Linked DNA regions of Homo sapiens. The protein of the gene in region 2 interacts with the protein of the main gene of each other region in a pairwise test. Each region holds a gene or a part of one and is shown on either strand. Other genes may lie near its edges. The genes, in order: STOM, CYB5R3, TMEM79 and VMP1.

Region 1 (7,986 bases), on a different chromosome or scaffold from region 2:
TGCTTTTCCATGCCTTCTTAAAAAAACTGATTTTGAATTCCATCTGTATCACTTTATCAACATCTTTTTTTTCCCTCAAAGATGACTAGGAATCAGTGACTGTCTTTTACTAGGTAAAATTTATACCATCAAATGGCACCAAAAATCTATTTAATCATGAATAAATATGCCAGTTTTGTAGACTTGGTCTTCCATAAGTTAATTTATGACCACTGATGGAATAACTCAGATTAATTATTGAAGAAGTTACAAAGTTCTCTCCAATCTGATTGGCTATAACAACTGAAATAAACAATCAGTCTCCCAAAGGGTTTTATTTGTTGACATGGCTCTTAATTACAGTGATACATTCTTTGCAATTACTTGCATTATTTCATTACAAAGTGAATGCATCGCCTTTAAGAAAAACTAGTCTTGCCCTAGGCCTGGTGCTATTTACCTACCTAGGACTAATTCTCAGTAAAGACAAAGAGGCAGAGTTTAGGCTTTTAAAATTCCACTGCTTCTTTCACAAGCAGCCTTCTGGAAGTCATCACTGAAGCTGTGTTCCTCCAGGCTTTTTTTGTTTATTGTCTCTCAACTTAAGTAAAGTACTGAAGTTAGACAAGGTTCTACATTTTGGTATCCATCTCTGGGATAGGGAAAATGATTCAGAAAATCAGATAGCCGGGGTTTGAAACAGGGCTGAAAATTTTAGAAACTGTGATTTTGCCATGTGAGCCGCAGTATCCTTATTGTGAAATGGTGAATAATGACTTTTTCCTTGTAGAGCTGTTACAGAATGCAATTAGATAATGTTTGTAAAGCACTTAAACTGTCTTTTGGCACAGGGAAAGCATTCAATAACCTCTATTTAATAAATTCCAGCAATACCTTTCCTAGTAGCGTCAAATTTGTTAGGTTTACATTAAAAAAACACAGACTATGCAAAATTTTATTTGTATGTCTAATTTTTGAGAGGAAGTGGTGGTTTTCATTAGATCTTGAAAGATTTCTGTCTAAACAGTAGTTAAGTGTAGAACCAAGGAAAAAAACTGGAAGTTAAAAACTCATCTATGACCACTTGTCTGTAAATAAACATTAAGTACAAAGATCATGTTGATTCTCAAAGAACTCCAAGCAGATTTGCCACTGCAGTTTCCCACCAGGAGGTCAGGGTATTGAGGAATGCATGCTAATACCCACCTTTTTATCTAGGAAAAGACAACTAACTATCGAAGAGGCAGTTACCACCCATTTTTTCCCTATTCAAGTTTTAGAATCAGTCAAATCTAGATTTAAATACAAACTAAGTGACTTTAAGTAATTTAACTTCTTTGACTATCAGTTTCATCAAGTATAATATGGGGATAAGAATACCTACCACATCATCTGTTGTGAAGATTCAATAAAATAATATATACATAAAATACGTGGCACTGGGGGGGTCGCGGTGGCTCATGCCTGTAATCCCAGCACTTTGGGAGGCCGAGGCGTGTGGATCACTTGAGGTCAGGAGTTTGAGACCAGCCTGACCAACATGGTGAAACCCTGTATCTACAAAAAATACAAAATCAGCTGGGCATGGTGGTGCACGCCTGTAATCCCAGCTACTTGGGAGGATGAGGCAGGAGAATCACTTGAACTCGGGAGGCGGAGGTTGCAGTGAGCGGAGATCACACTCCAGCCTGGGCAAGAAAAGCGAAACTCCGTCTCAAAAAAAAAAAAAAAAGTGATACGGAGCCTGACCTATTTAGTTTCAATTTTTGTTGTTGTGGTTGCCATTATTCTCATCAACTCCTCCCTGTTACACTCTCCATTTGGGAAGATAACCTGCAACGTTATTAGTAGACAAAAAGTGAGGAATAAAGATTTCTGTAATTCCTTTGATGCTCCTGGGAAGGAACTGAACACAGGGATCCCTGGACAAGGGAAATGGAACTTATAGCTAAGATGCTGTGGATAAAGCTGGCTTTACAAATAATCAGAATAGATGACTCCAATGTCATGTTCTTTGAGGGGTCCTGGAAAGGACCACCCAGCCCTCTAAATTGCTTTCACTGCCATCCTGCCTGAAATTCCATCTTTAGAAACACTGTAATTCCTCTGGATCACTAAGAGCTCCTGAGTGGGTACCAGGACTCCTGAGAGGTCCACCATCTCTCTTTATTGGAACCCCCTCCCCAGAGTACCAGTTCCTCCACAGGGGAACGAGACTGAGCCACTTACAGCTCCTGCCTTGAAGACTGGGAAGGGAGGGTGGGGGTGAGGGTGGGAGAACTCAGGGTTCCTGGCGAGGAACAAAAGCCGGGAAGGAGAGTTCTCCAAAACGCAGAGGAAAGCGGAGGGGGAAAAATGGGGCAGAAAGTGGAGCTAGAAAGAGAGGTAAGAAGAAAGCCAGAGAGACTTCTTCCTTCTGCAAATCGGTCTAAGTTTCGGGAGGTGGGATTGGGGGAGGAGGGGGTTCACCCTGGGGCCAGGCCAGGGCTGGGTGGAGGAGGCGGCCTTCGAGAGAGTGAGTCGGGAAAGAAGGGGAGTGGGCAAAGGGTGAGATGTGGGGTCCCGGTCCCCGCCTCGCTGGCTGCCAGTTCCCTCTGCGTTTCCTAGTCCGCGTGCGTGACACGAGATAGTGCAGCCCTGGCATGGGGCTTGGCATCTGGCGGCCGCGAGATAACCAGGGCCCGTGCGATGGGAAACGTGCCGTTGGCAGCCCGCCACCCCTCCATCGTGACCTCAGTCTGCCAAACAGGGTTCGTGATGCTCAGTTTACTAGGGAGGAGCCGCGGCTTTGAGATCTCGCCCAGCCCGAAGCAGCGGAGACTGGCCAGGAGCCCGGCTGTCAGACCTCGGAGCGCACGCTGCGGGCGGGGGCTCGGTCCACGGGGGAGGGTCAGGGGACGCGGGACTCACCCTTGAAGGAGTCGGGGAGCCGCTGGGCTTCGGAGTCCCGTGTGTGCCGCTTCTCGGCCATGCTGCCCGAGACGCAGTCGCACTCCCCCGTCCTCGTTGCCAAACCCGGAGCCGCCGGGAATGCCCTGAGGAGCCAGAGGCACAAGACCCAGATTGCCGCCCCGCCCCCAATCGAGGTCCCGCCCTCGTGAGAGTTGGCCAATCAACGCCCAGGATCGAGGAGGACCCACCTCCCAATCCCCGCCCTCCTGTCCCTCCACGGCGCGACTGCTTCGCAGTCACTTCCCGCTAGTTCTGTGGGCTGAGGGGCGTGGCCTGAGGGGCGTGGCCTGAGGGGCGAGAGCCCCCAAGGCTGTGGGTATGAGGCCGGGGCCCTGCACCGGAAGGGAGGGCGGAAGCCACGGGACGTGGAGCAGATGGTGAGGATAGTGGGGAGGTAGCAGCAGAGGATGACCCGAGGCAAAAGTGCAAGTGAAGAAAAGTCGCCTTGCCGGGCAGAGGTACGGGACCAAGGCGCCTCCTCTGGGCTGAGGAGTTAGAGGGAAGAAAATGGCGCCCTGTCATGAGGGCGCGAGGTCCGAGTTGAGGGGAGAAGACTGAGGGACACAGAAGTGGCCGAAGTGAGGGCGCTGAGGTCAGCCTGAGCTGAGAGGGCCGGCAGATCACGCCGCAGCCGAAGTGAACGAACTCGAGTGAGGTGTGTTAAGAAAATCAAAATGTATAAATTTGGAAAAGGAGAGGAGGCCGGGCGCGGTGGCTCACGCCTGTAATCCCAGCACGTTGGAAGGCCGAGGCGGGTAGATCATCTGAGGTTAGAAGTTCGAGACCAGCTTGGCCAACATGGTGAAACCCCGTCTCTGCTAAAAATACAAAAATTAGCCGGGCGTGTGGCGCGCGCCTGTAATCCCAGCTACTTGGGAGGCTGAGGCAGGAGAATCGCTTGAACTTGGGAGGCAGAGGTTGCAGTGAGCCGAGATGGCCTGGGTGACAGAGCGAGACTCCGTCTCAAAAAAACAAAACAAAAAACAAAAAAACAGGAGAGGAGACTTTATTTCTTGTAAGGGGTTACAGCCTGCAAGGTGGCCATTCCGCAGGCTGGAGAATGGCCAGGACCAGAGACAGGCATTTCGTTGGAGGAGGGGTTGGAGTAGCGGCTTTATGCTGAACAGCTTGGGTAGACATGCATATTCAGCAGGTGACAGGAGGAGCTATGAATATTCATGAGGGTGGTCCTGACGCATGCCCATTGAGCAAACATGCATGTAACATACAACCCATGTTCATTTTGGAGTGAAGAGTTACCAATTAAATGTTAAATGCCTGGCCTGCATGGTGACGTCCCCATCTCTACAAAAAGTAAAAAAAAAATAGCCAGGTGGGGTGGTGTGTGCTTGCGGTCCCAACTAGTCAGGAGGCTGGGGCAGGAGGATCACTTGAGCCCAAGAGTTGGAGGCTGCAGTGATGTATGATCAGATCACTGCACTCCAGCCTGATGGACTCTAAAAAATAATAACAATACATGTATTACAGTTAGACCCCATGCGTCAAAAGGTCTTTTCAGGACAGGAAGGTGTGCAAGTATGCAGTCTGTGTAAACTAGCCAGAGCCAGTCCATGGTCGGTAGTTTTCCTATGAGGAGAAAGTTACTGAAATCAGCCTCTTGTCCAATTAAAGCTGTAATGATGGCTGGTGGAATAGGGGTTCCATTAGGCCACATCTGGTGGAGCTGCAAATTGTTTTAATATTGCTTATCTCGAGGCCAGTGCTTGTTAAGCTGCTAGAGAAAGAGAACAACCTTGTGGCAGTTAGAACACAGTTTATTCTCTAAGTGAAGGGATGTGTGCCTTAACCTTTGCCTGGCATGACCTTAGGTATAATTTGTTTATAATTTGGTATCTTATTGTCACAAACAGTCTGTTCTGTCAGTCTTATGATCTGTGTTTTAACGTTAATGCTGGTCAGCTGTTGTGTCTAAACTCCAATACGATGAAGTTATAATGAGGCGAGTCTGACCTTCTGTCCTGTCATTGGCTGGGAACTCAGTTTTAAAGTTTTCTGGAGTCCCCTTGGCCACAAGGGAGTCCATTCAGTCGGTGGGGTCATTTATTCAAACAAAATCTTCTTGGAGCATCTTCCATGTGGCAGGGAGTGTGCTAAGGGCCTCGTGGAGTTTACCTTATACTCTAGTTGGGAGATGGGCCACAAACAAGTAATTGAATCATTACACATGGTGAAGGAAGCTGTGAAAGGAGTGGAATATTCGGAGAACAGCAAAGGTTAGGACAGGGGAACACCTCTGTAAGGAAGGGGCTTTGAGATGTCGCCTGAGAAATGAGAAGGAGCCAGCCTGGGGAAGGGGAATAAGCGGTGCAGGAGGTGGGAAAGGGTATCCCAGGTAGAGGGAAAAGCATGTGCAAGGGCATTCCCAACCTCAGGCCTTCTCTTGGGGTGTGGCTGAAGACCTCATATTTGGAAAGTAGGCTGTGTTTGCATTAGACTTGTTCTATTGCACAATGTTCAAAGTATGTTAATGTACACAAGGTGCACTTATAAAAACATTCGATTTTGAAATAAGTACAGATTCACAGGAATTTGCAACAACAGTACAGAGAGGTCACATGTCCCCTTTACCCAGTTTCCCCCAATAGTTACGTCTTACTTAACTAGAGTATCAAAACCAGGAAATTGACAGTGGCACAAAATGTATTTATAGTTCTGTGCCATTTTAACATGTGTAGATTGATATAACCACAGTAATTGATACAGAACTATTCCATTACCACAAAGATCTCCCTCAGGAGGAGCACTTCTTTCTTAATGTGCTCAATATTTGGCTGTGTACTACCCAACACCTTGTGGTGCTTAGGTCATATGAAATGGTAGACTTTCTCTCTGATTTTACAGCTCTGGAGCTTTGTGACTATCAGGACGGAAACGGGAGCAGACACAACAGGTGTTAAGAGAGGCATTAAGATGATCTTTGCTTGCAGGAACAGGCTCCAGTGTGTGATCAAAACCTGACTCAGAGCTTGCAGTTGACTTTTAGTCAAATACTGGCCAAGAACTGTTTGTATTCCTGGGATGGAGTGCAGCTTGTGCAGTCACTTTGTTAGCCTTCTGGAGAAGATAAGGAGGGGAGTACAGTAATTTAATGATCCCTTCTCTCTAAATCATCCTTGAGAAAGTCCATAGCTTCATTTTTCCATTCTGTAACGAATAAGCCCTGGAGACATAAACTTCCCGTTTATCCTGTCATTCCCAGGAAAGAGGAGCAAATACACAAGAAACTAATTAAACCCTTCGGTAGAGGAGGCCTTGATTACAAATTGCATATTGTGAAAAAGGATTTAGGTTTCATTTTTGTTGGAAAGGAAAATGGTATTTCAAAATGAATTTAATATGTGTACCCCTATCAGTTACCTAAGCCCAAGTCTCAAGACAATCTTAACAGTGTAGTGTCCCTTCTGGAGAATTAGAAGTGTCTCCCTTTGGGGTAAAGACTTTGGTAAACACTTCTTGGCTCTGGTTTCAGATTGCATCAGTTCTAAAACTAATTCCTGGCCCTAAACTAAGAACAAGCTTTGACTTGATTTTTAAACTGCTTTTAGAATAGAGTTTCCAATTTTTTATTTAAATATGCTTACTCTCACTTGCCCATGAAATTGGTGTATTCTGGCTTTCTCGTGCATATTCTGTTATAAATGTATTGATTAAATGTACTTTAAAAATCAATTTCTCACTCTTAAGATTAGAAAAAAACAAATATTAGTACATCCCTTTCTCCTTTTGGAGGATTTTTAATCTTAAATTTTCTCCCAGTAATGATTAGAAGTTAGAATGATTTTTTTTAAAGAACCTTATGGCCAGGCGCAGTGGCTCATGCCTGTATCCCAGAACTTTGGGAGGCTGAGGTAGGCAGATCACTTGAGGTCAGGAGTTTGAGACCAGCCTGGGCAACATGGTAAAACCCCGCCTCTACTGAAAATACAAAAAATTAGCCGGGCATGGTGGCGCATGCTTGTAATCCCAGCTACTTGGGAGGCTGAGGCAGGAGAATTGCTTGAACCCGGGAGGCGGAGGTTGCAGTGAGCGGAGATCATGCCACTGCACTCCAGCTTAGGCAACAGAGTGAGATTCCATCTCAAAAAATAAAATAAAATAAATAAATAAATAACATTATGCTTTTTAAATGGAGACATATAAAATTGTGAGTACTTTGAAGAGAGAATTTCTTATCACCTCTAACAAAACTGCTATTACAATTTTGGTGAATTTTTCCTCTAGTTGTTATTTGAAGGATACTTATATATAGTTTGAAAATCAGAGTAGATGTTCCATATTTCCTTTATTTTTTATTTTTATTTTTTATTTTTTAGATGGAATGTTGCTCTGTCACCCAGGCTGGAGTGCAATGGCATGATCTCGACTCACTGCAACCTCTGCCTCCTGGGTTCAAGCAATTCTTCGGCCTCAGCCTCCCGAGTAGCTGGGACTACAGGCACCTGCCACCACGCCTGGCTAATTTTTTGTATTTTTAGTAGAGACGGGGTTTCACTGTGTTAGCCAGGATGGTCTCGATCTCCTAACCTCGTGATCCACCTGCCTTGGCCTCCCAAAGTGCTGGGATTACTGGCGTGAGCCACCACGCCTGGCCGTTCCGTATTTCCTTTATGTTTTATTTTGCTGTTATTTGCCTAGCATATTCAAGGTACCAAATTAAGTATTGATTGATGGTAATAGTGATAACATTAAGACTTGGAGATCAGGTTAAAGACAGATATGCACCATGAATCCGTAATTGAATAAGACAGAAGGAAATTTAATTAGCCTTTTTCCTGTGTCCATAGCAGTGCTTTAATAAGAACAATAGAAAAGTCTTTTTTTTTTCCTTTAAATTGCTAATCCAGGATGTTTTCGATGCTTTTATGGAAGTCAGCTAACTAAATACCTTGAGAGAACAGCAATACCATCAAATTACATCTGTCTGTGACATTTTCTCTAGGATGGGACTAACAAATTTGATCTGTTTTTTTTTAATATGTATTAATTCACACTTATTGCATTACAACAAGGTTTTTGTCTTCTTAGCTCTTCTCT
Region 2 (7,027 bases):
GGGACTCTGGCACCCTGTGTCCCTCTTCCCCTCTGTGTTATTAGAGGCAAGGAGAGGCGGGTGATGGGTTCCCTGGTGGGGCAGAGCATGGCTTGTGGGCATTAGGTCAGGGGCTGGGAGGCAGCTGTCTCCTGGGCCCCCAGGTGGCTGGGGTGAGGTGGTCTGTGTGTGTGAGTGTGTGTGTGAGTGTGCACGCAGCACAGGTGAGGAGGCACAGGGGTGGGACCTTGGCCTCAGCCACCTGCCTTCTGTTTACTTGGCCCACTGCTGGTGAGGGTTGGGGTGGTGCTGTGGACGAGGACGGGGCAGAGCCTGTTCCAACCCGTGTGGGTAGGAAGAGAGTGCACCCCACCGTGTGAGTCTGGCAGGGCCTCTGGCTTTCTGGAGGTGAAACCTTCGCCCCTCCACTGCTCCTGGCTGTGGTGCGCCCTCTCTGCCGGTGTCTGTCTCCCCGTCTGGCTTGAACTCGGGCGGGGCCTCCTGGCCTGTGTCCCCTGCGTTGCACATGGGACCTGCCACCTCAGTGCCCACTGGGGTTTGTGGACTAAACGACTGACCGACGGTGATGGTCTGCCTGTGGCTGCCTCCCCAGATAAGAACTTTTACCTATAAAAAGCCCACCCCTTCTCTTTAGTGGCCAGAAAGTGTCCCCGGGCTCAAGTCTGTCCCCTGAGGCTTGGTTTCCTCACCTGAAGTGGGAGGAGTCATGAACAGGCTTGAGGACTGAATGAGGTGGCGTGAGCAGAGGCTGCCCGCCTGGCTCCGGGCAGCCCCTGTTGTTGGGAGCAGACACTGGAAGGAAGGTCCTTGACTCTCATCTGCTGCCCACGGCGAGCCTGGCCTTCTGAGCAGTGCTTGACTCCCAGCTCAGCCACGGGAGCTGCGTATGTCCTCTCTGAGTGTGGAACAGGCGTGGAAACAGCCTGGAGCCGGATCCTAAGCCCACCTCTGAGGCCTGTGCTCTTGGAGGACAAGCGGGCTTTTCTGACAAACAGGACAGGCTGTGCCGCGCCCTCATCCAGGAGTCTGGGCTCTTGTCCTGGTTCTGGAAACTTCTAGGCAAAATAAAAACACTGGGAGGGTGGGAGCCTGTTGTCCCTTCACTAATTCATTCCACAAATATTTGTTGAGTGCTTTCTGTGTGGAGTGTTGGGGATACAGTGGTGACGACAGACACAGATCCTGCGGTCTGCTCCAGGGCCACTTCTGGAGACTTGTGGGGAGCCGGCAGCCTGGGGTTGGAGGCCAGCATTCGGGGACTTGCCATCGGAGCCACTAATACGCGGGTGTCTTTTTCTTGGCCCAGCGCCCACCCAGGCTCACTTCCATGGGTTTAGGTTTAGGGCAAGGGAGGGAAGTGGGAAAGCAACAGAAAATCAGAAACCAGGCTCCACCCTGGGCCTCCTTGAGCTACATTTGTCCCCTCATTGTCACACGGGGAGCCTGGTTGTTCCCACCTTGCACCACTGTGGGAGGGCCGGGGAGGAAATGGGGGAAGGTGCCTCGCAGCCCGTGAAGCCAGCTGCCCGCGGAGGGGCCTTAAGCTGGGCTGTGCACTGACGCAGCTGTGCTGGAAAAACAGAACTCCAGGGAGCACCAAGCACAACCCCAGCTCCTAATGTCATTCAAGTTCATTGCCAGGGCCCCCAACAATGGTGATTTCCTGTGAATGTAACTTCGGCCAACTTTTTCCCTAGACTCTATTCCACGTGGGCGTGGTTTCTGTGACTGAGGGAGAGGTCGATAGCAGAGGAATCCTCGGAATAGTACTTGCCCCAGGGAGTTTCCAGAAGGGACCAGGGGCTGTGAAAAGTCTACCAAGGGCCTGGTTAGCTAGGGAAGGGCTCATCAGGGAAGATTTGATGTTTGAGCTAGGCTCTGAGGAATGAATAGGAGTTTGCTGGTTGGATGCATGCAGAGCAAGGACATTTGGGGCAGAGAGGAGAGCATATGCGAACGCCTGAAGCAAGATGGGCTTGATGTTGAAAGAGCAGAGAGCTGGGAGGTGAGTCCAGAGTTGGGGCCATAGAGAGGGTGCCTTCAGGTAGGCAGTGGGGAGCTATGGTGGGTATTTGAGGAGGGGTGGAGCCGCCTGTTGGTTCGGACCCCCGGGGCTGGGGGCAGGTGCTCAGGCCTCACTGTGGGAGGCAGGATGTCAGATTTGGGCTGTGAGCTCTTTGACTGGAGCAGAAAGAGTGCCCCTGTCCTGGGAGGTGGCTCAGGAAGAGCAGCACTTTGGGCTGGACATTGAGAGTCCACTCCCGGCCCACCCTGAATGGCTATATGACCTTGGCAGGTCACTTCATCTATCTGAGGGATAGATAACAGTGTCATGTGGTGAGCGATGCTTGGAGGGCTGGCTTTGGTGTACTCCGGGCAGGTCACTCCCCTTTCCTGGCCTCAGTTTCCTCACGTGCTGGGATGATCACAGTGCCCGCAGCCTAGGGTTGAGGTGGGGAGTATTCCAGGAAACCCGCGGCCCCTACTCAGAACAGTGCCAGCTCAGGGGCGCTGACCGCTGTGTGCCTCCTTCCTCCCCACCCTCCCCATCCTCCAGGTAGGGCCCGGGGAAGTGAAGCGACTCTCCTGCCATCCTTAGCTGGGACTCAAACCCTGGTCTCTCTGACCCAAGTCCACAGCTGCCAACTGGGGCCTTAAAGGAGGCCTGGGATGAGTGAAACACCTGGGCCATGCTGATTAAATGGGTGGTGGCCAGAGACCCCAGCTGGGTGGCCCTGGGCATGGGTGAGGGGTGGGCTAGGCATCCACAGCCCTTCCTTTAGACCCATGGGTCAAATACCAAGGGCCCCATGGAGCGAGGCCTCAGCTGCACCCAGCATGGAGGCCCTGCCTGGGAGAGAGGCCTTTTGTTTTAAGCCCAACAAAGGACCTGTAACTGTAGCTGGGCAGCTTGGAGCTGCTGGGCCGTTGCAGGGTGGGGGGTGGGGGGGCGGGGGCCAGGCCTGGTGTGAGGTTGTAGCACCCTGCCCTTCCTTCACTTGGCTATTCCACTCCTCTCAGTTGGTAGTGGCCCCGTGAGGGTGGCAGGAAAAGCTCCTGTGTGTGAGCCGGGACTTCCCAGGTTATAGACCCCTACGTGACCTGGGCCCCAGCTCATCTCATCTCACATCGCTTCAAGGAGATAGGCCAGGCAGTGGCCCTCGCTTTTTACAGACAGGACACGTGGCTCCACCAGAGCGTCCTCCTCAAATTGTTGGAGAGTAGGGACTCCTGGTAGTGTTTCCAGAAGGGGAGGGGCAATGGGGCTAGGCCTTGAGAGGTTAGGAGCATCTTACCTGGCTCTGAATAGAGCAGAGGCACTTGTCTGTGTTCTGCAGGATATACTACCTCAAGGGGCCCGTAGCAGGTCCCACAAAGCAAGTAGAGAGGCCTGCACGCATGCAAGGAACTTGTTTCTCAGCTTCCTGGCACTCAAAGTGAAAAGGGAACTTGTAGGGTAATGATAAGAGAACACACATGCACATTTGCTGGGAGAACTACAATCAGGGAGGTATATGGGGAGGGTGTATAAACAAGCTCTGAAACAGCTTTCTTGAGAGCCAGTGTTTTATATGAACTTTGGCTTCTCAGCCTCTCTAGTTGAACTACCAGTATGGGCTTCACACACTTTTTATTTTGAAATAATTTCAAATTACTGGCCGGGCGAGGTGGCTCACGCCTGTAATCCCAGCACTTTGGGAGGCTGAGGCGGGCGGATCACGAGGTCAGGAGATCGAGACCATCCTGGCTAACGCAGTGAAACCCCGTCTCTACTAAAAATACCAAAAATTAACTGGGCTTGGTGGCGAACGCCTGTAGTCCCAGCTACTCGGGAGGCTGAGGCAGGAGAATGGTGTGAACCCAGGAGGCAGAGCTTGCAGTGAGCTGAGATCGTGCCACTGCACTCCAGCCTGGGCAACAGAGCGAGACTCCATCTCAAAAAAAATAATAATTTCAAAGTTACTGTAAAAGAACATTTATGGGCTGGACGCAGGGGCTTATACCTGCAATCCTAGAACTTGGAAGGCTGAGGCTGGCTGTTGGCTTGAGCTCAGAAGTTTGAGATTAGCCTGGGCAACATGGTGAAACCGCATCTCTACAAAAAATACAAAAAAATTACCAAGGCCTGGTGGTACGTGCCTGTAGCCCCAGTTACTTCGGGGACTGGGCTGGGAGGATTGCTTGGGTACAAGAGGTCAAGGCTATAGTGAGCTGAGATCACGCCACTGCATTCCAGCCTGGGTGATAGAGTGAAACCCTGTCTCAAAAAAAAAAAAAGAGCTCTTATGTACTCTTCACCCAGATGTACCTAATGTTATTATTTGCTACATTTGCTTTATTTCTCTCTATACAGTATATATCTAATGTATGTTAAATATATTAGATACTACATGTGTGCATATCCATACAGTGGACCCTTGAATGGTATGGGGGTTAGGGGCTGACCTGTATAGTTGACAGTCCACGTATAGGCTGGGTGCAGTGGCTCATGCCTGTAATCCCAGTACTGTGGGAGGCTGAGGCGGGTGGATCACTTGAGGTCAGGAGTTCGATGAGACCAGCCTGGCCAATGAGAAAAAACCCCGGCTCTACTAAAAATACAAAAATTGGCCAGGCGCTGTGGCTCATGTCTGTAATCCCAGCACTTTGGGAGGCCAAGGCAGGCAGATCACCTGAGGTCAGAAGTTCGAGACCAGCCTGGCCAACATGATGAAAACTCGTCTCTACTAATGATACAAAAATTAACTGGGTGTGGTGGTGGGCGCCTGTAATCCCACCCACTTGGGATGCTGAGGCAGGAGAATCGATTGAACCCGGGAGGTGGAGGTTGCTGTGAGTTGAGATCTCACCACTGCACTCCAGCCTGGGTGACAGAGCCAGACTCCATCTCAAAAAAACAAAACAAAACAGAAAATAAAAATTAGCCAAGTGTGGTGGCGTGCGCCTGTAATCCCAGCTACTTGGGAGGTTGAGGCAGGAGAATCGCTGGAGCCCAGAAGGCGGAGGTTGGAGTGAGACAAGATCGCGCCACTGCATTCCAGCCTGGGCCAGATCTGTCTTAAATAAAAGAAAAAAAAAAGAAAATCCATGTATAACTTCTGGTTCCCCCAAAACTTTCCTACTAATATACTATTGACTAGAAGCCTTACCAATAACATATTTGTATATTGTATGTATTATATACTATATTTTTACAGTAAAGTAAGCTAGAGAAAACTGTTATTTTAAAAATCATAAGGGGCCGGGCGTGGTGGCTCACGCCTGTAACCCCAGCACTTTGGGAGGCCGAGGCAGGAGGATCACCAGGTCAGGACTTCAAGACCAGCCTGGCCAACATGGTGAAACCCTGTCTCTACTAAAAATACAAAAATGAGCCAGGAGTGGTGACGTGCGCCTGTGATCCCAGCTACTCGGGAGGCTGAGACAGAAGAATTGCTTCAACCTGGGAGTTGGAGGTTGCAGTGAGCTGAGACCGTGCCACTGCACTCCAGCCTGGGTGACAGCAAGACTCCGTCTCAAAAAATAAATAAAGAGAAAAAAAAATCATAAGGAAGAGAAAACATATTTACTATTCATTAAGAGGAAGTGGATCATCATAAAGGTCTTCATCCTTGTTCTCACGTTGAGAAGGCTGAGGAGGAGGCAGGGGGTAGTCTTGCTGTCTCGGGTGACAGAAGAGGAAGAAGATCCTTGTATAAGTGAACCACTCAGGGTCCTGGCCGGGCACAGTGGCTCACGCCTGTAATCCCAGCACTTTGGGAGGCCGAGGTGGGTGGATCATGAGGTCAGGAGTTCAAGACCAGCCTGGCCAACATGGCGAAACATTGTCTCTACTAAAAGTACAAAAATTAGCCAGACGTGGTGGTGCTCACCTGTAATCCCAGCTACTCGGGAGGCTGAGGCAGGAAAATCACTTGAACCCGGGAGGCGGAGGTCACAGTTAGCCAAGATCACACCACTGTACTCCAGCCTGGGTGATAGAGTGAGACTCCATCTCAAATAAATAAATAAATAAATAAATAAATAAATAAATAAATAAATAAGTGAACCACGCAGGGTCCTTCCGGGGGGTGACCTTCAGCTGGCCATTCGGGATGATGGACTTTCCATCCCAGAACCATGGCTCCATTTGTCCGTAACCTTGTGGAGAAGACCCCAGCACTGGTGAATGCTGCTGTGACTTACTTGAAGCCTCGATTGGCCGCATTTTGGTACTACACCACGGTTGAGCTGGTTCCTCCCACCCCTGCTGAGATCCCTAGAGCTATTCAGAGCCTGAAAAAAATAGTCAGTAGTGCTCAGACTGGTAGCTTCAAACAGCTCACAGTTAAGGAAGCTTTGCTGAACGGTTTGGTGGCCACTGAGGTGTCGACGTGGTTTTATGTCAGAGAGATCACAGGCAAGCGTGGCATCATTGGCTAGAATGTTTGAAGACCAGTCTTAACATCTGATTATATTTGATTTATTATTTGAGTGTTGTTGGACCAGGTGTGATCAGACTGCTATCTGAATAAAATAAGATTTGTCAGAAATTCCAAAAAAAAAAAAAAGTGAATCAAGCAGTTCCAACCCATGTTCAAGGGTCAACTGTGTCTATATTTTGAACCATTTAAGAGTAAGTTGCCCCTTTGCCCCTAAATATTTCAGTGTGTATCTCCTAAGAACAAGGACATTCCTTTGCGTAACCACAGAATAATTACAGGAAAGTAACATTGGTACAACACTATTATCTAATCCACAAGCCTTATTCAATTTTTTTTTTTTGAGATGGAGTCTTGGCTCTTGTCACCCAGGCTGGAGTCCAGTGGCATGATCTCGGCTCACTGCAACCTCTGCCTCCTGGGTTCAAGTGATTCTCATGCCTCAGCATCCTGAGTAGCTGGGATTGCAGACGCCCGCTACCATACCTGGCTAATTTTTGTATTTTTGGTAGAGACGCGGTTTTTCCATGTTGTCCAGGCTGGTCTCCAACTCCTGACCTCAGGTGATTCACCTGCCTCGGCCTCCCAAAGTGCTGGGATTACAG
Region 3 (7,151 bases), on a different chromosome or scaffold from region 2:
CCAAGAAGTCCCAGAGGTAGGTCTCATATCTGGAAGGGTAAAACCCAGAGGACATCAGGCAGGAGCTATAAGAACATGTGAATCAGGCACAACTGTGGACACAAAAGCAACAAAAACAGAGTGAAGATTCCCAAACAAACCAAGACGTGCTCCCGGGCCAGGAAAAGTGGGCCACAACAGTTGGCACCCTGTGGTGGTGGTGGCTCAGGAGGCACACTACTAAGCTGCCCTACACAGGGTGAAGTGACTGCCAGCACCCAGCAGAGTAGGTGGGATGGTAATCGATACCTTCTCACAAGCAATCATGTTTCTTCAAACTGGACAGCCTAGAGATGGATGCCAAGCCCTTTTGGCCAACCTGGCCCTCGATGCCAGGGGCAGCACCAGTGATTTACTTTATACCAGCTCAGTCCCTAGGGCAGGGCTTTTATCTTTGGTGCCATGGAAAGAGCTAATGGGAGTGTATATTTTTATAGACAAGCTCCACAGCTCTCCTTATATCCTTAATCCAAAAGAAGGTAAATAACCACCACTCTAGGAAGTTCTAATTGAAAACGCTTAAATATGAGAGGGCTCACCACTTTTTTCTCATTTTCCATCAGATCATAAGCTCCTCCACTAAACTATAATCTCTCTTAGAACAAAAACTACAAAATCTAGCCGTGTGTTTCATTCACTATTGTACTCTCGGGCCTAGCAAAAACAAAAATGTTTTTAAAAACAAATAACTAATGAATTGGCCTAATTAATTAATTGGTGCTTCCAGGCTCCTTTCTCCTGCTGCCCTTTCTTCTGACTTAAAATATTTCAGAATTTCATATCCGTAAACAGCTAGGTGTGAGAGTTCCCCAAATTTCTGAAGCTCAGAGTGACAAGTCCATAGTCTAACAACACATTTATCTTGAGCAGAGAAATCAGACTTTCCTCCTAGTTCCTTCCACTGATCACCACTGCTATAATAAATTATAAAAACAGTGATTGGCTGCCTCAAATTTCTACCCTGCTCAAAGCCAACAACACAATTACAGGCAGATACCCATGTGCACACAGGTAAGCCACACAGGCAAACACATCAGCTTAGGTTAGTCCTGTGAATGTAGTGGTTTAAGAAAGAACTACATTTGATGACAACTGGAAGGATGACCAGAGCCATCCCCAAAAGCTGGAGACAAGGAATATTGCAGACACTGCCCACGCTCTGTCTGACAGGCAGCACTGACACTCGGCAGCATGATAAGGCACACGTGCCACCCCCAGCCAACTCCTCACCCGCCTGGGGACTGCTTGGGGCAGCCCATAGTGGGAGCCCTGGGGCCGCTAGATTGAATCACTTTTCTATTTTTGGAGCAGCCTATACTCCCCTCTGCCTCTGGCTTACAAAGCCAGAGAAGGCAGGATGCCTACTCAAAGAGAAAAAGACAACATGCTCTTGACTCTTTCACCGCCAAAATGTGGCCAAGGCTCTGAGGGTCGTCTTCTCATGCAAATATCCGTGTTCTATAAAGCCTGAGCTAAATGAAAACCCCAAACTCTACTCTGTAGTAGAAGGCACAAAACTCAGTTTCCACGCTTCATCCTATTTTGACCCAGTTGCGGAGCCCATGTTCCAGTTGACCTACCCAACAAATTCTCCACCTTTGATGGGAAGAGCTCATTCGGGCCTGTTGCCAACAGAGGGCTGAAGGGCTGAAGATGTGACTTGTGGAGCGTGGGTGGCATTATGGAAATCAGAAACCAGGAACGGAAGTTGCCTGGCAAGAGACTACAGTCATGAGGCTGGGAGGAAGGCAGGACTCAGGAGTCCCCAGGTGCCCGGAATTGCCTCCCAAATCCCAAGAACGCTCTGGACACAAAAGTCGTTCGTGACCCTTCCAGGCCAAGACTTTCTCATTCGGACTCCTCAAAATTAGAGCCGTATGGGACTTTAGAGCACATCCAATTCAAATCGTTCTTTTTAAGGATAAGGAAACTGAGGCCCAAGGTCACACCGTGAGAGAGTGGCAAAGGATGGACCTGAACCTAGCTCCACGGACTTCAGTCCAAGACTCTTCCTTGTAAATCCCCCAGGATTCCAAGCACCGTTCCCTTCCGGGTTTTTCTACACCTGTGACCCCACCTTCACCTACCCAACCCTTCCAGCCTTCAATTCCCACCCTATTACCCCAACTCCACCAAGCTTAGTGCCCGCCCCAAGAAAGCTCACTGCAGAGGGGATTCCTCCACGTGCTTCCCTCCAAACCTCCCACCTACCCAATTCCTCCTTTCAGTTCCATCCCGAGTTACTACGGGACCCCGCCCCGCCTCCAAAATTGCACCCTCCTTCCTCACCCGCACCTCACCCCGACACCCGGGCCCCGCCCGCCCGGGAGGCCCCGCCCCTCGCCGTCTCCCCACTTCCCTCGGTGGCTGCTCTCACGCCCTGGCCCCTCTCACCGGTAAAGCCGCTTAGTGTGGAGGACTTTTGCTTCGGGCTCGCTGCTCTCCCCTGTGGGGGGGCCTTGGCTCATGGTGCCCGGGTCCGGGGGCAGCTCCCGGTCACAGGCCCCTGCCACCCACCACTACCGCCAACACTGCCGTCTCCGGCCGTAGCCGCAGCCGCCGCCGCCACCGGCCCTGCTCGGCCGCCATCGCTGTGAGGCGGCTGCCCGCGACAGCTCCTCCTCCGCCTGCCAAATCTCGCGATGGCAGCCGCACAGTTGCGGACCAGTGGCCTGCTGCTACCAAATCTCGCGAAACTCGTTTTCCCTCCCGGGAAGTTGCCAGAACTAACTCTGGGCAGCATGGCGTCTTTCCGGCTTCTCCAAACCCTTGCGAAAAACTTTATTGGCAAAGCTATCAGAGAACGGACAGTGTACCCACTGAGGCGGCCAAAGCTTAACTGGATCAGGGCAGGTGAGCTTACAGCTAGGAGCGTGACTGCTTTGTCCTACAATGGTCATTTGGTCCATCCTTCTGCCCCTTTCCCGCCTCCCCGTTTGAGCCAAGCCTCTTTCAGATTACTGGTTAGAGTGACTCCAGCTTTCCCTTTTCCCCCATAATTTAAACAAACAAAAAGTGCATGTGAAAGTTTCCTTGGAAAGGGCCGAGCATCACATAGGAGTAAAGCCCCGGAAGAAATGACTTGTACAAGCGTCTCGGCCCTTCAGCTCCCCTCCCAAAGATTTCCAGCTTGCATATCTATCTCTTACGAGCCAGTAACATTTATTGAACTGCCATCTTCCAGCCACAGTGCAAGATTCTAGACACACAGAGGTGAGCAAGCTAGACACTATCCCTGCCCTCCCAAAGCTCAAATGATTTTAGGGATAAGGACTCATAGAAATGAGAAGCTAGTCCCTAACGTTTCTATCTCCTAATCCTCACATTGGAAATCAGGGCAGGTGGGCTTACAGCTAGGAGCGTGACTGCTTTGTCTTGTTTTAGCTTAAAACCTAAGTTAAAAAGCAAGGGTGGTTTGTTTTGTTGTTGTTGTTTTTGCCTGTGTATGAATTGTAATGAGAACATAAATTGCCCTTCTACCACTATGCTCCTGGCTGCAGCCACCCACCTTCTTTCTGTTCCTGAAACAGCCTAAGTCTTTCCCATCCATTGGTCTTTCACTTGCTGTTCCTCTGTCTGTAACACTCATACTCCTGATTTCCCATCAGGTTTCAGCTCAAATATTACCTTACCAAAGAGGTCTTTCCTATTAAAATTGTCTAATTGATTTAGTTGCTAGGCTTCTTCATTATGTTACCCCAATAGAACATAAGCTTCTCAAGGGCAGAGACCTCAACTGTCATCTTGTTCTCTTCTGTGTCTGCCTAGCTAATAATTGGTGTCCAGTAAGTATTTACTGAATGAATAAGTGTACAAATTCCATTTCTGGGTATCCCAGCCTACTCCGAGCACCCTTTGTTGCACAAATCCACTTTTCTCCCTCTGCTTTCCTGAGCTGGGAGTTCTTACGCATTCCAGGTGCCTAGAATGTGAACTTACCCCTTTGCCCAGCTGCATCCCAACTTTCAGAAAGGATGACATCCTCCTCTGATGCTTTTTTTTGTCGGCAGATTCAGCAGGGCGGGGCCTGCCCCTTTAAGCTGGGCCCCACCTGCTCTGGTCAGACAGGTTTTGAGACACAGGTAAAGGGAGGGAGACAGAGAGAAATACTTGCAGAGCCAGCAGGTAGCTGGGCAGCTCCTTCCCGGACGGACGGATGGACAGACGCTGGGGACCCTCCACTCCATATGGAAAGTAAGAGGATGTCATGGGTCCAAACTGCAAGGTTTGGAGTGCCCTTGAGATAAAGGAAGGGAATCAGTCCCATCCAGAAGCAATGAGATGGAGGGCAGCAGGGAGGAGAGAAAGACAGGAGAGAAGGCATAGAAAACAGCCATGATCAGACCTAAATATCAGAATAGCAGACCCAGGCCCTGCAGAGATGGATGAGGTGGGCTAGTGAGGAGTTTGGGAACTGACCAAGTACCAGTGAAGGAAGAGGGTGCCTGGAACTGCCAGCTCTTTGGGTCAGATCAGTTGGCAAATCACTGGTCTCACTTGGAATGCAGGAGGGTTCCAAGCAGGGATGTGTAGGGATGGGACAGTGGAGAGGAAGCTTCTCTGTCTACAGCAAGATCCTCAGTGGGAAAGAAACTTGGCAAAGTTCTAGACACCTCTTCTGCCTCCTATTCCTGCATTAGAGTGGCCATGACTCCAGGGGTTTTGGTGGAGGGGCATAGAAGGCGTGGGTGGAGGCTGACTGAGTTCACAGCTGCCAGGGCCTGTGTCCCTTGACTCACCCTCTCCTGTTGGACGGCATTTGATGTCGAAAGGGTGCCTCCATTTCAGCTGCTCACTTCCTTCCCTCCTCCCTCTGTTTCAGTGTCTTCCTCTGTACCACGTTCTCCCTAAGGCTCCAGAAGGGGCCAAAACCCATGAAGCCAGTTGCCCTGGAGAGTATGAGTTCTGTCAACCTGTCCTAATAACTAGAAGACAGGGGTTTCTGACAGAGCTTTCCTCTGTTCCCTGCAGGATGACATGACCTTGTGGTAGATCCCAGAACTGAGGCCCCAGGATGACAGAACAGGAGACCCTGGCCCTACTGGAAGTGAAGAGGTCTGATTCCCCAGAGAAGAGCTCACCCCAGGCCTTGGTTCCCAATGGCCGGCAGCCAGAAGGGGAAGGTGGGGCCGAATCCCCGGGAGCTGAGTCCCTCAGAGTGGGGTCTTCAGCTGGATCTCCCACAGCCATAGAGGGGGCTGAGGATGGTCTAGACAGCACAGTAAGTGAGGCTGCCACCTTGCCCTGGGGGACTGGCCCTCAGCCCAGTGCTCCGTTCCCGGATCCCCCTGGCTGGCGGGACATTGAACCAGAGCCCCCTGAGTCAGAACCACTTACCAAGCTAGAGGAGCTGCCCGAAGACGATGCCAACCTGCTGCCTGAGAAAGCGGCCCGTGCCTTCGTGCCTATTGACCTACAGTGCATTGAGCGGCAGCCCCAAGAAGACCTTATCGTGCGCTGTGAGGCAGGCGAGGGCGAGTGCCGAACCTTCATGCCCCCCCGGGTCACCCACCCCGACCCCACTGAGCGCAAGTGGGCTGAGGCAGTGGTGAGGCCGCCTGGCTGTTCCTGTGGGGGCTGCGGGAGCTGTGGAGACCGTGAGTGGCTAAGGGCTGTGGCCTCCGTGGGAGCCGCACTCATTCTCTTCCCTTGCCTACTATACGGGGCATATGCCTTCCTGCCGTTTGATGTCCCACGGCTGCCCACCATGAGTTCCCGCCTGATCTACACACTGCGCTGCGGGGTCTTTGCCACCTTCCCCATTGTGCTGGGTGAGCCTGTGAGAAGAAAGGGGGCATCGGGAAGTGGACTTGAGGAGGGCAGGGCCTGGCTGGTGTGGGGAGCAGGAGGATTTCCCTTCACTTGACCTGGGCCCCTCAGGGTCTCCCACCCCCTGCCAGTCTGCATGCCCATCTCCTCCCAGGACCACCTCCACCCCACTGTGTAGAGCCCATGCACTGCCCACAGTGAATCTGCCCCCAGCTTACTGCCTCTTGTGCCCTTCCCCTGCCTTTTCTGACCCTACCCTGTTTCCCAACTCCACCCAGGGATCCTGGTGTACGGGCTGAGCCTGTTATGCTTTTCTGCCCTTCGGCCCTTTGGGGAGCCACGGCGGGAGGTGGAGATCCACCGGCGATATGTGGCCCAGTCGGTCCAGCTCTTTATTCTCTACTTCTTCAACCTGGCCGTGCTTTCCACTTACCTGCCCCAGGATACCCTCAAACTGCTCCCTCTGCTCACTGGTCTCTTTGCCGTCTCCCGGTAAGTTGGGGCAGAGGGTGGGGCATGGGAGAGGGGATGGTGCTAGAGAACCTAGGCATCTGAATGTCTGGAGAGCCAGGGTCAGGAGCTTTCCGGATTCTACACTGGCCCAAATGTGTGCCCTGGGGAGATAAGTCCACCTTCTCTCTTGCACCTTACCTCAGCTGGTCAGCAGATGGAAGCCGATTTCAGAGACATATATAACCATATGGAACAAGAAGGCTTTCAGGTGTCATCTAGATCAATGCACCCATTGCAGCCACTCCTGTGGCAATCTGGTCAGGTAGCTGTTTTGGTCTCTGGTTGAACACCCCCTGTAACCAAATGTACAACTTAAAAATAGATATATTTTTTCAAAATAGAGACAAGGCTGGGTGCAGTGGCTCATGCCTGTAATCTCAGCACTTTGAGAGGCCGAGGTGGCAGATCACTTGAGGTCAGGAGTTCGAGACCAGCCTGGCCAATATGGTGAAACCCTGTCTCTACTAAAAATACAAAAATTAGCTGGGCATGGTGGTGCACACCTGTAGTCCCAGCTACTGAGGAGGCTGAGGCAGGAGAATCGCTTGAGTCCAGGAGGTGGAGATTGCAGTGACACAAGATCGTGTCACTGTACTCTAGCCTGGACGACAGAGCTAGACTTCATCTCAAAAAAATAAATAGCCGGGTGTAGTGGCTCACGCCTGTAATCCCAGCACTTTGGGAGGCTGAGGTGGGTGGATCACAATGTCAGGAGCTCGAGACCAGCTTGGCCAACAAGGTGAAACCCCAGGTCTACTAAAAATACAAAAAATTAGCCGGGTGTGGTGGTGGGCATCTGTAATCCCAGCTATTCAGGAGGCGGAGGCAGG
Region 4 (7,740 bases), on a different chromosome or scaffold from region 2:
ACAAACTATTCTGAAGAATATAACTGATTTTCTTTCCTTAATCTATTACACTTCAAATCTAGCCAAGCACAGTTTTTGTTATGCTACAATTTATAAGACTAAACTAGCTAAAGAGGGAAAAAAAGTTTGTAAATAAGGCTTATGTGCGTATGTGTGTATTTACGTGTGTATGTGGATAGATCCCTTTAATACCTAAGAGTAATTATTTTCATGTGAACTTGGAAATATTACCAAACCATAATAAGATGCCTGGATACAACCTTGTTAGAACAGAAAGAACACTTGAGACCTTACAGTTCAGGTTCTAGCACTACCTAAGCCAGATGACCTCAAGCAAGCCAATTACTAATTACTGATTGTTTCTGAGCCTTAATTTTCTCCTCTGTTAAATGGGAATCTACTTATACATTCACAGAGATTCCTTCTAATTCTAAATATTGGTTTCAGTGAAATAATAATGTTTCTTTTTTTTTTGAGACGGAGTCTGGCTCTGTCTCCCAGGCTGGAGTGCAGTGGCGCAATCTCGGCTCACTGCAAGCTCCGCCTCCTGGGTTCGCGCCATTCTCCTGCCTCAGCCTCCGGAGTAGCTGGGATTACAGGCGCCTGCCACCACGCCCGGCTAATTTTTTGTATTTTTAGTAGAGACAGGGTTTCACTGTATTAGCCAGGATTGTCTCGATCGCCTGACCTCGTGATCCGCCCAACTCGGCCTCCCAAAGTGCTGGGATTACAAGCGTGAACCACCGCGCCCGGCCCAATAATAAGGTTTCTTATTTAATGTAAGTAAGATAGGACTACTTCTACTCTTTAGTTAACTATACGTAGGCAAAAAACTTCAGCTTTTTCTGCACTTGGAAGTTCTGAAGTGACAATACATGACGACCAAAAAGGATCAGATTTAAACTCCCGAATGCAAAACTATACTCATTTTCCAGGAACCTATTTATTAACCATGGTGACTAATTCAATGGATCACGGTATCAAACTATTCTTTGCTAACTTTCAAAGGTGGGGCAAAGATCATCTCAGAAAAGTATGTGATAATATTTTCAGATAATGATGCAAAGTAACAGTATTCTACACTGACATATCTCCAGTTCTAAGAGTAAAGTGATACCATATTTTCATATTTAATAATTTCATGTTTACTAGCTCATTTAATCTTTGTGACAGTTGTATGAAAGAAAGTGAGCAGAATTTTTATCAACACAATCTAGACCAGCTCAGAATGTTAGGTAACCTATCAGCCATTACTTAACAAGTGTTGGAGCCCAGACTTCAATCCAGGTCTTCTGATTTAAAGTTTAATAGTTACCAAAATCCTAAAAAGTGGTGATTCAAGCCAAAAGCGAGAAGTTGGAAAAGTGAGAAAAACTGGATAATCAGTCCTTCAATTGAACATAAAGAAGATAAGATCAGATTTGGCAGTTATATAATCAAGAAGCAAATTTACCGAATGTTAAACTAATGATACATCTATCATAATTCCATATCTCAAATTTTGTCACCTTGTTTCAAAGCCAAGCGTGAACAAATTTTCAAACTCAAAATAAGAAAAATATGTAAACTGACAAACTGATTTAACTAGCTATAGGTAAACTGGTAAAAGGCATCATGGTTCTATGTATATTTTCTTCTGGAATGTGACTCATAGAAATTAAACTGTATTAATCAATTGTAATCAAGTAGGATATATCCCTCAAAGGAAAAAAGTAACCTTCAGTGCCTTAAGATAATGTAGGCAAAGTAGTAAAATATAAAATTTCTACTCGAGAGAGTCACTTCATACCTACACAAATCAGTCACATTTGTCTAGGTACCACCATCCCTCTTCCACAGTAAAAACATAAGCTACAATGCATACAATGATGCCTAGTAAGTAAGTTTCTTCCTTTCATCATCTATGCTAAGAATACACAACTAAAATCAGAGCTAATGACAATACAATTACTAGGTAGTAGCAACTGGAATATTAAATTCTATCATGACAACACCAGAAACACTTGTACAAGCTTCTTCAAATGATCAATGTAATCTGTCCACAAAAATCTCTGACAAGCCCCAAAGTAGAAATGAAAGACGTTAACATTAGGATAAGGAGCGATGCTGCCAAAACACATCAACAGTGGCCAGTCTACGTGTATTATTAGATTTTTACATGGAGTTGCAGGTAAATAAAAGATGATTGTGTAAAATCTTCTGGAGGTCATAAGTAATCTAGCAGTGTGACACAGGGCCACATATGGTTTCTGGAATTTTAGAGATTAAGTCGACCTTCACGTTTTACTGCAAATACCTCCACTGTAATAAGATATAGAGGTCGGGGTTCAGGGGTTTGGAAAGGCAGACAACTCTTTTTCATTAAAGCAGTGAAAAATCTGAGAAGTTCCTCTCCAAGGGCTCTGCGGAGCGAAGGCCCATTCCCTTGGCTACCCTGTACCACCAGAGCTTTAGATGGCACTTGCACGCCTGGATTTCGTTTAGGAGCGAATACATCTAGCATCATGCGCCAGAGGTTCGGGAGAGCAAAAACCAAACTGACAGATCCTGAGAAATAGCTCAGTCATCAGCAGGGAAGACCTTCTCCACTTACTCCAAGGTCCTGGACATCCCGGGACTAAGAGGTTCTCTAAAGAAGCCTAGCAAGGCTTCCAAGTACGCGGAGAGGAGAACGAACAGCCCGGTGTCTGGGTTCAATGTCCGGGTGACCAACCATGAGAAGGTGTCCCAAATAACCTGGCTACCGCCAGCGTGAGACATCCAGGGTGAGACATCCAGTCAGCAGCGTCCTAAAACACTGCTGGAAGTCGGAATCACAGTGCCCCAGATCCGCAATGCCTAAGTGGGAGAGCTCCGGAAGACGCCAAGCTCTGAGGACAGCCTCAGGCTTCGGTCCCCAATTCCCTGAGTTAGTTTACCTACCCGCTCCGACCCCGGCTGCTCCGGATCTCAGGATCCTGGAAGCTGCTCCTTACGGACTCTCACACCCGCCGCTGGGCTCCAGACAACCGGAACCCGCTCACGTCACTTCCGGTCCGGTCCCTCTGCCCCCTGAGACAGCCTCCAGAAGGGATACGTTCCTCCCTCCTTTCGGCGAGCTCGGTTGATCCTCGCGGGATTTCAGTTAGGCTCTTAGTGCGGGCCCTGTGGGTGTGGCAAGAGGAAGAATGACTGCTCGCTTTGTGATTCTTGATCCGGAACTTGTCACCCAGGAACCCCGGAAGAGGTAGCTCACGCGATAGAAACGTGTTCGCTGCCCAGAAGAAGGGAAGGCGCGAGTGAGGAAAGGAGGTACTGTAGGTAGGTTGGTTGGCTCCTTACAGGGCGAAGGAGACCAATATCATTATTCATTTTCTCGCCAGTAGGAACGTTTCTTTTCACCTCGTTGCATTACCCACCTTCTTCATTTTCTCCTTTATAAACTGTCTTCCGCCCAGGGGCCGCTGAGCCCTCTGTTCCTGTTCTGCGAACCGTCCTTTGGAGGAAAGGAACAGGCTGCTGGGGAGGGGAAGACTCAGAATTTCTAGTTCCCAGCAAAGCCTCCAGGCAGGCAGTATCGATGCGCTCTCTCCGAAATTGATAAAATAGCGAGCAGGCCTCATACCCTCAGCTGGGCACTTATGAATATCCCCAGCGTTTCGAGCTGTCGAGCTCTGCGTGGAAAGAATTGGTTTCTAAGAATATAGTCGAAAATTTGGGGCCGGGCGCGGTGGCTGACGCCTGTAATCCCAGCACTTTGGGAGGCTGATGTGGGCGGATCACCTGAGGTCAGAAGTTCGAGACCATCCTGGCCAACATGGCGAAAACCCATCTATACTAAAAATACAAAAATTAGCCGGCGTGGTGGCGCGTGCCTGTAATCCCAGCTACTCGGGAGGCTGAGGCAGGAGAATGACTTGAACTCGGGAGGCGGAGGTTGCAGTGAGCCGATATCGCTCCATTGCTCTCCAGCCTGGGCGACAGAGTGAGACTTCGTCTCAGAAAAAAAAAAAAAAGAAAGAAAAAATTTCCCCCCTTTTTCACACAAAGAGATTAACTAGAGAGGTATTAATCCTTACTGACATACCCCAGGCACCATACTAGACTCTGGGAATATGTTATACAGGGAAAGTGGGGCAGTGGCTTAAGGGTCAGAGAAGATTTGGGAAAGGTTTGTTTGTTTTTTTCGGTTGTAAACTGCAGACCCGGCGCGGTGGCTCAGCCTGTAATCCAACACTTTGGGAGGCTGAGACAGGAGGATTGCTTGAGCCCAGGAGTTTGAGAACAGCCTGGGCCACATAGGGGGCCACATAGTGAGACCCTGTCTCTTAAAAAAAGATTAACGGGTGGAGCATGGTGCAGAAGGAGGTAATGGGATCAAGAGCACTACTGAAATGGGTTTACTGAGGCAGGGGAATTAGAAGGCACCAAGAAGAAGATTTTATAGGATGTACTTATTTTGTTCTGCTGTCATTGCCCAGAATTATTTATGAGACAAAGAATGGTTATTTGTTTTACCTTAGTCTTAGGCACTAGGCTTATTGATACGCTTGTCGTAAGTGTACAGAAAAAGAGACAGACATGTTGTTTTAGAGGAGTTAGATGATAATCTGATCAGATTAATATGAGATTAGAACATCCTAAAGAACAAAAATATGTGTTAATTTTAGCATTTTTATGATTAGACACTCCATTGAGATATGGGACATAATAAATAAACTTGGTAACTTTTGGAACTTTCACTGTCCTGTTTTTGATCTTATTGGGTTTTTTTTTTTTTTTGGAGACAGGGTTTTGCATTGTTGTCCAGCCTGGGGTGCAGTGGCACGATCATGGCTCACTGCAATTTCCACCTCCCAGCCTGAGGTGTCCTCCTACCTTATCCCCTGAGTAGCTGGGAGTATGGGCATGTGGCACCACATCTGGCTAATTATTTAAATTTTTTGTAAAGATGAGGTCTCACTGGGTTGCCCAGATTGGTTTTGAACTGGACTCGAGATGCTGCTGCCTCGACCTCAAGCAACTCCTTGAGGCCAGGAGTTCCAGACCAGCCTGGGCAACATAGCAAGACCAAGTCCATACAAAAATAAAAAATTTTTAAAAAATCAGGAGGGTGTGGTGGCATGCACCTGTAGTCCCATCTACTTGGAAGGCTGAGGTAGGAGAATTGCTTAAGCCCAGGAGTTTGAGGCTGTAGCGAGCTATGATCATGCCACTGAACTCTAGCCTGGGTGACAGAGGGAGACCCCTTCTCTTTAAAAAAAAATAAAGAAAAAGGCAACTTCTCTGTTTGATCCTCATATTTCTCATCTTTAAAATGAGGCTAATATATCTTCCTTTTTATGTGTTCATAGCAACAATAAATGAGGTAATGGATATAAAGGATTTAGTATGTTATCCAGCACATAATAGCTTCTCTATGTAGAGCAGTTCCTTCTCCAGATAGTACCGGAATGTAGTGTATGGGATATTTGGTTACTTTGCAGCCTAGAAATTATTTCAGAGAATCCTAATTGCTGACATTGCATATTTGTTCAGTTTGGAGTCTGGTTGTTAGATTATCAAAGAAAAGTCCTGCTGATATGTAAGCATCAAATAGAAACTTGGCCAGGCATGGTGGCCCATGCCTGTATCCCAGCACTTTGGGAGGCTGAGGCAGGCAGATCACTTGAGGTCAGGAGTTCGAGACCAGCCTGGCCAACATGGTGAAACCCCGTCTCTACTAAAAATACAAAAATTAGCCAGGTGTGGTGGCGGGTGCCTGTAATCCCATGTACGTGGGAGGCTGAGGCGGGAGAATTGCTTGAACCCGGAGGCAGAGGTTGCAGTGAGCTGAGATGGCGCCACTGCACTCCAGCCTGGGTGACAAAGTGAGATGCCGTCTTAAGAAAAAAAAAAGAATTCTCTGTCTTTGTCTCTTTTAGGGGGTGGGGGCTGTAAAGGCACTAGAACCATAAATACTATGTCTGTGCAGCCCTGTCACCGTATTTAGGCACTTGAGTGGAAGAGCACTGAAACTAGGTGCACTACAGCTTACCCTATGTGACCCTCCTACTCCTGGCCACTCCATGTCAGTCTCCTTTGATTCCTAATGTTCATTTCCTCAGGATTATGTTTTAGTCCTTTCTTCATTCTACATATTTGTCCAAGTGGCCTCATACTCTTCCATCTCTTCAGTAACTTCAATTATATGGTAAGGTCTCTCAAATCTATATTTCCAGCCCAGACCTTTCTGACTTTAAACTGATATATCCTAGACCTTTCTGTCCTTTAAGCTGATATATCCTTTTTTTTCTTCTTTCTAGATATCTCTGAGATGTCTTTTGTTCAGAACAAAACTAATTCATTATCTTTTCCATTCAAACCTGGTATTTCACCAAAATTCTCCATTTGTTCAAATCTAGCTGTCATTATTAACTTCTCCCTTTCTTTTGCCACCAGACTTCCTGTCAGTCACTAAATCAGACAGGTGTACCTTAGACACTTTTTTTATTTCTCATTCCCACTACTGTTGTCTAAATGACCATCATCTCATCTAGACTGCTGGGAGAGGCCTGATATAGTAATGTTAAGAACAAGGGCTCGGCAGGGCATGGTGGCTCACGCCTGCAATCCCAGCACTTTGGGAGGTCGAGGTGGGTGGATCACCTGAGGTCAGGAGCTCGAGACTAGCCTGGCCAACATGGTGAAACCCCATCTCTACTAAAAATACAAAAATTAGCCGGGTGTGGTAGCACATGCCTGAAGTCCCACCTACTTGGGAGGCTGAGGCAGGAGAAGCACTTGAACCCCAGAGGTGGAGGTTGCAGTGAACCAAGATTGCACCACTGCACTCCAGCCTGGCAATAGAGTGAGACTCCGTCTCCAAAAAAAAGAACAAGGGCTCGGCAGGGCATGGTGGCTCACGCCCGTAATCCCAGCACTTTGGGAGGCCGAGGTGGCTGGATCACCTGAGATCAGGAGTTTGAGACCAGCCTGGCCAACCTGGTGAAACCCCGTCTCTACTAAAAATACAAACAATTAGCTCGGTGTAGTGGCGGGTGTCTGTAATCCCAGCTATTTGGGAGGCTGAGGCAGGAGAATCACTTGAACCCAGGAGGCAGAGGTTGCAGTGAGCCGAGATTGTGCCATTGCACTCCAGCATGGGAGACAAGAACAAGACTCTGTCTCAAAAAGAAAAAAGAACAAGGGCTCTGGATTAAGACGACCACTTATGAGCTGGGTGAATTTAGGCAAGCTATAACTTGTGTACCTCATTTTTCTACATCCGAAAAATGGGGATCATAATTATATATAGATGCTTCTCAACTTAGGGTGGGGTTATATCCTGATAAACCCATCATAAATTGAAAGTACCATAAATTGAGAGCCAGGCACAGTGGCTCATGCCTGTAAATGTAGCTACATGGGAGGCTGAGGTGGGAGGGATCATATGAGGCCCAGAGTTCGAGACCAGCCTGGGCAACATAATGAAACCCCTGTGTCTTAAAAAAAAAAGTTTTTTTTTAAATTAGCAGTGTGTGGTGGTATGTGCTTGTAGTCCCAGCTACTGGGGAGGTTGAAGTGGGAGGATTGCTTGAGCTCAGGAGTTCGAGGCTGCAGTGAGCTATGATCACTCCACTGTATTCCAGCCTGGACAAAAGAGTGAAACCCTGTCTCTTAGAAAAGGAAATAGAAGTTGGAAATAAATTTAATACACCTAACCTACCAAACATGGTAGTTTAGCCTAGCCTACCTTAAAGGTGCTCAGAACACTTAATT

The links.
Region 1: the proteins of CYB5R3 (region 2) and STOM interact in binary tests that used the Homo sapiens proteins (3 or more experiments, as listed by UniProt).
Region 3: the proteins of CYB5R3 (region 2) and TMEM79 interact in binary tests that used the Homo sapiens proteins (3 or more experiments, as listed by UniProt).
Region 4: the proteins of CYB5R3 (region 2) and VMP1 interact in binary tests that used the Homo sapiens proteins (3 or more experiments, as listed by UniProt).

The regions. Positions count from the first base shown.
Region 1 is NC_000009.12:121,367,238-121,375,223, forward strand, and holds the start of STOM (stomatin), read right to left. Parts: upstream 3,014-7,986; 5' UTR 2,951-3,013; coding exon 2,890-2,950; intron 2,730-2,889; exon of another isoform or gene 2,656-2,729; intron 1-2,655. UniProt on the Homo sapiens protein: Regulates ion channel activity and transmembrane ion transport. Regulates ASIC2 and ASIC3 channel activity.
Region 2 is NC_000022.11:42,639,368-42,646,394, reverse strand, and holds part of CYB5R3 (NADH-cytochrome b5 reductase 3), read left to right. Parts: intron 1-1,768; exon of another isoform or gene 1,769-1,885; coding exon of another isoform or gene 1,886-2,005; intron 2,006-5,793; exon of another isoform or gene 5,794-6,120; coding exon of another isoform or gene 6,121-6,423; exon of another isoform or gene 6,424-6,592; intron 6,593-7,027. Other genes in the region: ATP5MGL (ATP synthase subunit g 2, mitochondrial), read left to right, coding at 6,121-6,423. UniProt on the Homo sapiens protein: Catalyzes the reduction of two molecules of cytochrome b5 using NADH as the electron donor.
Region 3 is NC_000001.11:156,280,174-156,287,324, forward strand, and holds the start of TMEM79 (transmembrane protein 79), read left to right. Parts: upstream 1-4,151; 5' UTR 4,152-4,233; intron 4,234-5,010; 5' UTR 5,011-5,053; coding exon 5,054-5,810; intron 5,811-6,086; coding exon 6,087-6,300; intron 6,301-6,459; exon of another isoform or gene 6,460-6,614; intron 6,615-7,151. Other genes in the region: nonsense-mediated mRNA decay factor SMG5, read right to left, coding at 2,434-2,507.
Region 4 is NC_000017.11:59,702,931-59,710,670, reverse strand, and holds the start of VMP1 (vacuole membrane protein 1), read right to left. Parts: upstream 3,018-7,740; 5' UTR 2,923-3,017; exon of another isoform or gene 2,594-2,922; intron 1-2,593. UniProt on the Homo sapiens protein: Phospholipid scramblase involved in lipid homeostasis and membrane dynamics processes. Has phospholipid scramblase activity toward cholesterol and phosphatidylserine, as well as phosphatidylethanolamine and phosphatidylcholine.